Homo sapiens: one gene and its partner. The protein of the gene in region 1 purifies or fractionates together with the protein of each later gene. This does not show direct contact. Each region holds a gene or a part of one and is shown in the gene's direction. Other genes may lie near its edges.

Region 1 (4,147 bases):
ATGACTCCTGGTTTCTTCATACTGGAAATGAAGGATAGATGTTATATGAATTTGACCACTAGTCATTATTTCCCTGTGTCGTGGATTATATTGACATCTGGTTAATACCTCGTGAGTAGTTCATGTGGATTAGATGAGCAGCATCAGTCTCTGTGAAGGTGGGCATAAGGTCCAAGACCCTCTGTAGCAGAGAAAGAAAACTGATGAATCATAAAAGCATCTGGCTTGCAGTCTGGTAATAAAAACGGTATATATATATATATATATATATATATATATATATATATATATATTTTATCTTTCATACTCCTGTTGTTGCATTTTTAAAAAACTGGCTCTTAGATGTCCAGAATTGTATCCATCATATTCTTGAGGTTCATGACACATCCTCACAATTGGCTCATATACTGACTCAAATATTGTTGACTCATAAAAATTCAGGTTTTGCCTTCTCCTGAGAAACTGAAGGATCCAGCAACACTGGGTCTGTTTCCCTGCAGGGAAACCATTAGCAGCTGCTCAGAGTGCTGTCCCTCTTTATACTGATCTCTGTTGTCTCCTGACCAAGAGGCTTCATGTCAGTTGATGTACATCATTGGGCATGAACTGTTACTTTTCTAATAAAATAGAGATAGCTGTTTTATTGCATCTACACCATCCATTTACATTACCTGCCTGGCAAGCGTCATCTGAGTTTGAGAACTCTGCTCTGCTGGGCAACCCTTTTGACATCCCTAATAATAGCTACCATTCACTGAGCCCTTATTATATGCGAGCACGAAACTAACAATTTTTGACCCATTATCTCTTTGATCTCTATAAAGCTCTATGAGGTAAGTCTGAGCTGTCATCTCCATTTTACAAGCATGGAAACTGACCTCACAGAGGCAGGTAATTTGTGCAAGATTACAAAACTTCTAAGTGGTGACACTGAGATTCAAACTTTGAATTCAAACCTTGGATTCAAAGCCTAAATCCAAAGCTATGGTTTAAACTTTTTTTAAAAATTACGCTGCTTCCCAGCCAATAATCTTTTAATAATAGAATTGCTGCTACCATATGGGGTTTCTCCCCCATATTCAGTCCCTGTGGTACTGAATACCAGGAAGACCCTCTTCCTGGTATTCAGTGCCAACCTGGTGCTGTTGCTTTGTTGGAGAGGGAGGCCAGGTCGTTCTGGGGTCACTGTGACTCTCATAAATTACTGATCCTGGCACTGGGGTGTGTGTGTGTGTGTGTGTGTGTGTGTGTGTGTGTGTGTGTGTGTGTGTGTATGTGTAGCTGGGCTGTCCCAGCGCTATCCACAGGGAAGCTCCTATAAAGGGCTGCATCTCTGGACTCACAGCTATCAGACCATTGAGATGTGGAAGCTGTTGCTGTGGGTTGGTGAGTGTGGCAGGTCCCAGCAGTGTCACTCAGTCCAGGAAGTGCCAGGCTTTATGAGTTCGTCATCTCTCTGGTGCCTGAGAGAGCAGCCTGAGACTCAGGGAAGCCTAGATTAGGTAGAGATGGGATGGGCCATAGTTAATGGTCAGAGGTCAGAGGGACCCAGGGAGAAGTGGTCAGAGCAGTGGTTCTCAAACCTGGTGGCCCATTAGAAATTTTAAATGCCTGAGTTCCACCTTGGACCAGTTCTGTTAGAATCTCTGCATGACCAGCCAGGATATCAGTACTTCTTAATTTGCAGCCAGGGTTCAGAACCACTGGCCTCGAGCTTTTTCTGGGACTTCTAACACTTGTCATTGTCCCTGGGCAAAGCATGAGCATATACACATGTTTATCAAAAAGAAAAGGAACTTATATCTAGCTCCACTGGTCCAACTTTAGAAACTAGGAAACGAGTAAATGGTGTGTGTGTCCCCATTTGTGTGTCTGCATCTGCATAAGGTGGTGTGTTGGTGGGCACCCTTGCTAATCAGAGGGTGTGCTGTGCCATACCACTCTGGTGAGGGTATGAATCTCTGTGTGACTCCTTCCTTTGTTTCTCACAGGGCTGGTTCTTGTGCTGAAACACCACGATGGTAAGGAAACTGTGTTTTCCCTTCCAGAGCCAGGGAGAGTCTCTGGCTGAGAAGTCCTCCACATTGAGTGTCCCCTGCAGCCCACCTTGCCCTGGCTTCTCTGACAGGGATTATTGATCCAACACAGTTTCTCAGAGGATTTTTGGTCACCTGCTGTTTGTGTCGCTGACTGTGTGCCTTGGTCCAGACTTGAGAATCTGTTCTGACCAGGATTTCACAAGGCATTGTTTTCTTCCTGAGACCTCAGCAGTGGGGGAGGAATAGAACCTCAGTGTAGTTCTGAGGTGTACTTCAGGGCCAGGGAGAGAGGATGTGAAAATGTGGCCTGGTCTCTTGGGCTGCGTTCACATTGCTTTCTGGAAGCTGAGCTCCATCCCCTCCCTTGGTTTTTGCCAACTAATGTGTGCTCTCCCTTACCAGGTGCTGCCCATAAACTCGTGTGTTATTTCACCAACTGGGCACACAGTCGGCCAGGCCCTGCCTCGATCTTGCCCCATGACCTGGACCCCTTTCTCTGCACCCACCTGATATTTGCCTTTGCCTCAATGAACAACAATCAGATTGTTGCTAAGGATCTCCAGGATGAGAAAATTCTCTACCCAGAGTTCAACAAACTAAAGGAGAGGTGTGTTCATATTGGATGTGGGGGTTGTATTTTCAGATTTCACAGGTATAAGATAACAGTCTATTTCTCCTGTTACTCTTCAACTTTCTTCTATTTCTTCCAGTCCTACCTTCCTCTCAAATAGGGGTCCAGAGCACCCCCAACTTGAGAACTCCTTGTCACAGACACCTTGAGCTCTTTCCTGCCTCCTTACTTTTGTAGTTGCTGTTGTCTCTGCCTGGAATGTGCTTCTCTCTCTTCTCTGCCTGGCAAAACCCAACTCAGCCTTTGAACCTAGTTGTGAGGATTTTAGTTATTAATGCTGTTAAAGTGGGCTTACACATCCCAAATGCTCAACAAATGCTCATGTTTTTATTACCGTTTGTTACCGGTGAGCTACTCCAGGGAAGGGGCAGTGTCTGCTGTGTTGTTGTATCCCCAGTGGCTAGGTCAGTGTCTCACACAGGGTTGGTGCTCAGTAAGTGTTTGCTTACATTTTCCTCTCTCCGGAACTCCTGGGATCTCTCTGTGCCCAAAGGAAGGCTTGTTACTGCATTAATGGTTATAGATGGGCAGAGTAAAAGTTCTATGCCACTAGATTATAAACTCCCTGAAAGTGGGGAGCTTATCTGTGTTGTTCTTTGTTCTAAAGTGCCTAAAGCAGTAAATGGCACATAGACATTGCTCAATAAATATTTGTTGAATAGGAAAAAGAGAAACATTTTAGACTGCTCTTTTTTTGGAAGCATCATAGGGACATGCGCGAGTTTGGCAGACTTTGTGCAGCCTTGGAGTTGTTGGGCTGTGATGGCCCTTGGGTTGATTGTTCTCTCTGTCTTTCCTCCTCTCTCCTGTGCTCATCATCTCTCTCCTTCTATCACCTTCCCCCTTTTCCTTTCCTTACCTCCCATCTCTCCTGTTTCCTGTTTTCTTCCAATGAGCAAAATAAAAGAATGTGGCAGCAGCTGCCCACCGGAGTGAAGAACCCAGCTCATCAACCCTCTCTCTCACATCATAGGAACAGAGAGCTGAAAACACTACTGTCCATCGGCGGGTGGAACTTTGGCACCTCAAGGTGAGACTTTGCTGTTATTCTCTTCTCCCTGGGAGGGTGGAGCAGGCTGGTTAGACGTGAAGACAGAGGGGGAAGGCAGCTTGGCCATGCGGACAGCAAAGCTAGCGCAAATACTTCCCCAACTCATGAATCTTAGACCCCTGCACTCAAGGGATATCCTGGCCTCTTCTCCATGGTGGGTCAGGGGAGACAAGGAAGTTCTAGCAGGTGGTGAGAAAGAGGCTGGGGGAAAATTAGGGACAAAATGAGGCACTCATAATTGTTTCCTCAACCTTTCATAAGAGGCAAGGGTTTTGTCTCCAAGGGGAGGAATCAGGTGCAGGATGAGAATAACTCCCAAACCTCACAGGTTTCTTCACTTTATTAGTGGATCCAGGGATATCAACCTCAAAGGGTTGGAACAGAGGAAAGGAAATAACAAAATGCTAAGCTTAGTGCTGGGACATA
Region 2 (4,028 bases), on another chromosome or scaffold:
ACACTCCAGCCTGGATGACAAAGTGAGACCATGTGTCAAACAAAATACAGAAAGAATATTAATTTAAAATTTTGAAAGAGGAGTGATCTGAACTTATATCTTAAAAAGATCATTCTAGGGCATGGTGGCTCATGCCTGTAATCAAGGGCTTTGGGAGGCTGAGACAGGAGGATCACCTGAGGCCAGTTCGAGATCAACCTGTACAGCATAGAGAGACTCCATCTCTACAAAAAGAAAAAATAAATAGCTGGGTGTTGTGAGTTATTCAGGAGGCTGAAGCAGAAAGATCACTTGAGCCCAGGAGTTTGAGGCTGCAGTAAGCTATGATCCCACCACTGCAACACAGTGAGATCTTGTCTCAAAAAAAAAAAAAAATCATTCTAGGTGCTTTTTGGAGGCTGGATGTGGTAAGAGTAGAAGCTGGAGATGGTCCTGTTAGGGATTCGATTCAGACTTTAAATACCATCAATGCATTGAGTCCCAAATTTACATCACTACGTTGGATCCTTGCCCCTGAATCCAGACTGGTATATCCAACTTTAGGTTCAGTTTGTATCTCTACCTGACCAATATAGAGGTGTCCAGTCTTTTGGCTTCCCTAGGCCACATTGGAAGAAGAATTGTCTTGAGCCACACATAGAGTACACTAACGCTAACAATAGCAGATGAGCTAAAAAAAAATCGCAAAACTTATAATGTTTTAAGAAAGTTTACGAATTTGTGTTGGGCACATTCAGAGCCATCCTGGGCCGCGGGATGGACAAGCTTAATCCAGTAGATACCTTCAACTTACAATATCTAAAATTTTATGCCAGATTTAGTCATTTTAAACCTGCTCATCAGTTTTTCTCAAGAAGTAGTATTTTGGCTTTTTTTCTTTTCTTTTTTTTGAGATGGAGTTTCGCTCTTATCGTTCAAGCTGGAGTGCAGTGGCGGATCTTGGCTCACTGCAACCTCCGCCTCCTGGGTTCAAGTGATTCTCCTGCCTCAGCCTCGCAAGTAGCTGGAATTACAGGCATGCGCCACCATGACCAGCTAATTTTTGGAGACAGGGTTTCACCATGTTGGTCAGGCTGGTTTTGTACTCCTGACCTCAGGTGATCTGCCTGCCTCGGCCTCCCAAAGGCTGGGATTACAGGCATGAGCCACCGCTCCCGGCTGCATTTTTGGATTTTTAGTTGCTCAGCCCAAAACTTTAGTACATCTTTGAACCTCTTCTTTCCTCCTACTCTATATCTGATCCATCAGCAAATCTGTTAGGTCTACCTCACACATATCGAAATCCTACCACGTCTCACCATCTGTGACAATTAACACCCTGGTCTAGGCAGTCATCTCTGTTAAGATTGAGTGGTTAAGGATGTCCTCTAAGGAGATGACATTCAAATCTTAGCTTAAATGTCAAGAGGGAGCTGGTTTTATAAAGATTGAGGAGGCAGCATTATTTTGCCATAGGCTTCCATTTGGTTTCCATTCCATTCTTGATACTTATGGTATATATTCAAAACAAATGCACAGAAACAGACCCAGGTATATTGGGAATTTCGGATATAGAGTTCCTAGTTGGGAAAAGATAGACTGATCTGTAAATGATGCTAGTTATCCATCATCTGGCAAAAAATAATTTCCTGCCTCCTCTCATATATCTCAGATCAACAGACTTTTTCTGTTAAGGGCCAAATCATAAATATTTTAGGCTTTCCAGACCATATGGTTTCTGTCACACTCTCCTTTATCCTTGAAGCCATAGACAATATGTAAACAAATGGGCATGGCTGTGCTACGATAAAACTTTACTTACAAAAACTGGTAGTGGGCCAGTTTAGGCATGGCCAGCACTTTGGGAGGCTAAGGCAGATGGATCACTTGGGGTCAGGAGTTTGAGACCAGCCTGGCCAACATGGTGAAACCCTGTCTCTACTAAAAATACAAAAAATAGCTGGGCATGGTGGTGGGTGTCTATAATTCCAGCTACTCTGGAGGCTAAGACACAAGAATCACTTGAACCCAGGAGGCAGAGGTTGCAGTGAGCTGAGATAGCACCACTGCACTCCAGCCAGGGTGACGGAGTCTTAAAGCAAAACAAAACAAAAGGTAGTGGGTTGTATTTGGCCCATGGGCTGTAGTTTGCCAATCCCTGATGCAGAAACAAATTCCAGGTAAATAAGAGCCTGGAATGTTAAAAAAACAAAACTTGAAGTCATGTAGAAGAACAGGTAGGGGGAACAATCCTGATCTCAGGATAGGAAGGGATATTGCTTAAAATAAGACACAGGAAAATATAATCCATGTTGTGTAAATTTGACTACGTTAAAACTTAAAACTTTCGCCAAGCGCGGTGGCTCACGCCTGTAATACCAGTACTTTGGGAGGCCGAGGTGAGCAGATCACCAGGTCAGGAGATTGAGACCATCCTGGCTAACACGGTGAAACCCCGTCTCTACTAAAAATACAAAACATTAGCCGGGCGTGGTGGCGGGCGCCTGTAGTCCCAGCTACTTGGGAGGCTGAGGCAGGAGAATGGCCTGAACCCGGGAGGCGAAGCTTGCAGTGAGCTGAGATCGCGCCACTGCACTCCAGCCTGGGCGACAGAGTGAGATTCCGTCTCAAAAAAACAAAACAAAACAAAGCAAAAAACCTAAAACTTTCATACAATAAAGTATACCTAAGATACTTCTAGAAGAGAAGATTTACATCCAGGACGTGTATGGAATTTCTGCAAGTAATAAGTAAAAGACAAGGGACATGAAGAGGCAGTTCACAAAAGAGGAAGCCAAAATGACCAATAAACATGAAAGGATGTTTAACCTCAAAGGAAACAAGGAAATGAATTAAAAACATCAAATGCCATTTCAAAACTAGTAAGTTGGCAAAATTAAAAATACCAAGGATGAGAATATGAAGCATGGCTATATGAGTGCATGGAATGGTACAGTCACTTTCATTAAAAATGCACATAATTTGTTTTTTATTTATTTTTTTGAGACAGTCTATGTCGCCCAGGCTAGAATGCAGTGGCATGATCTCGGCTCACCACAATCTCTGCCTCCTGGGTTCAAGCAATTCTCCTGCCTCAGCCTCCTGAGTAGCTGGGATTACAGGCACATGCCACAACGCCCGGTTAAGTTTTGTATTTTTAGTAGAGACAGGGTTTTGCCATGTTGGCCAGGCTGGTCTCGAACTCCTGACCTCAGGTGAGCTGCTTCCCAAAGTGCTGGGATTAGAGGCGTGAGCCAATGCTCCTGGCTGAAAAAAATGCACATAATTTGTTACCTAGCAATTCCATGTCTAGAGGCTTATCCTAGAGAAATTCTTGCTTATATGCATAGGAAGACGTGTACTAGAATGTTCACTAGTTGAATGTTTAAGTGAAAATTAGGAAATAAAGTAAATGTTCATTAACAGGAAAATGAGTAAAGGTATATTTATAAAACAATTAAGTAGCTAAAATGAATAAACTAGAGCTGCGTGAATGAACTAGAACTGGTTCAATAGTCATGTCAGATTATTGAATGAATACAGGTCAGATATGTATAGAGTGTCATTTGTGTAATTAATTTTTTTTTTTTTTTTGAGATGGAGTCTCACTCTGTTGCCCAGGCTGGAGTGCAGTGGCGTGATCTCAGCTCACTGCAACCTCCACCTCCTGGGTTAAAGTGATTCTCCTGCCTCAGCCTCCCGAGTAGTTGGGATTACAGGCATGCACCACCATGCCCAGCTCATTTTCCTATTTTTAGTGGCCACAGGGTTTCACCATGTTGGCCAGGCTGGTCTTGAACTCCTGACCTCAAGTGTTCCACCCAACTTGGCCTCCCAAAGTGCTAGGATTACAGGCGTGAGCCACCGTGCTCAGCCATTTGCGTGATTTTTAAAGATGTGCAGAATAATGCCATTAAAAAAAATACACATACATGTATATATATACACGTTTGGCTGGGTGTGGTGGCTCACACCTGTAATCCCAGCACTTTGGGAGGCTGAGGCAGGAGGATCACTTGAGCCCAGGTGTACAAGACTAGCCTGGGCGA

What was found.
Region 2: the proteins of OVGP1 (region 1) and AKAP10 purify together in Homo sapiens (affinity purification with mass spectrometry; one large-scale study listed by BioGRID and IntAct). This does not show direct contact.

Annotation. Positions count from the first base shown.
Region 1 is NC_000001.11:111,424,936-111,429,082, reverse strand, and holds the start of OVGP1 (oviduct-specific glycoprotein precursor), read left to right. Parts: upstream 1-1,347; 5' UTR 1,348-1,361; coding exon 1,362-1,386; intron 1,387-1,991; coding exon 1,992-2,021; intron 2,022-2,441; coding exon 2,442-2,646; intron 2,647-3,643; coding exon 3,644-3,700; intron 3,701-4,147. UniProt on the Homo sapiens protein: Binds to oocyte zona pellucida in vivo. May play a role in the fertilization process and/or early embryonic development.
Region 2 is NC_000017.11:19,971,054-19,975,081, reverse strand, and holds part of AKAP10 (A-kinase anchor protein 10, mitochondrial isoform 1 precursor), read left to right. Parts: intron 1-4,028. UniProt on the Homo sapiens protein: Differentially targeted protein that binds to type I and II regulatory subunits of protein kinase A and anchors them to the mitochondria or the plasma membrane.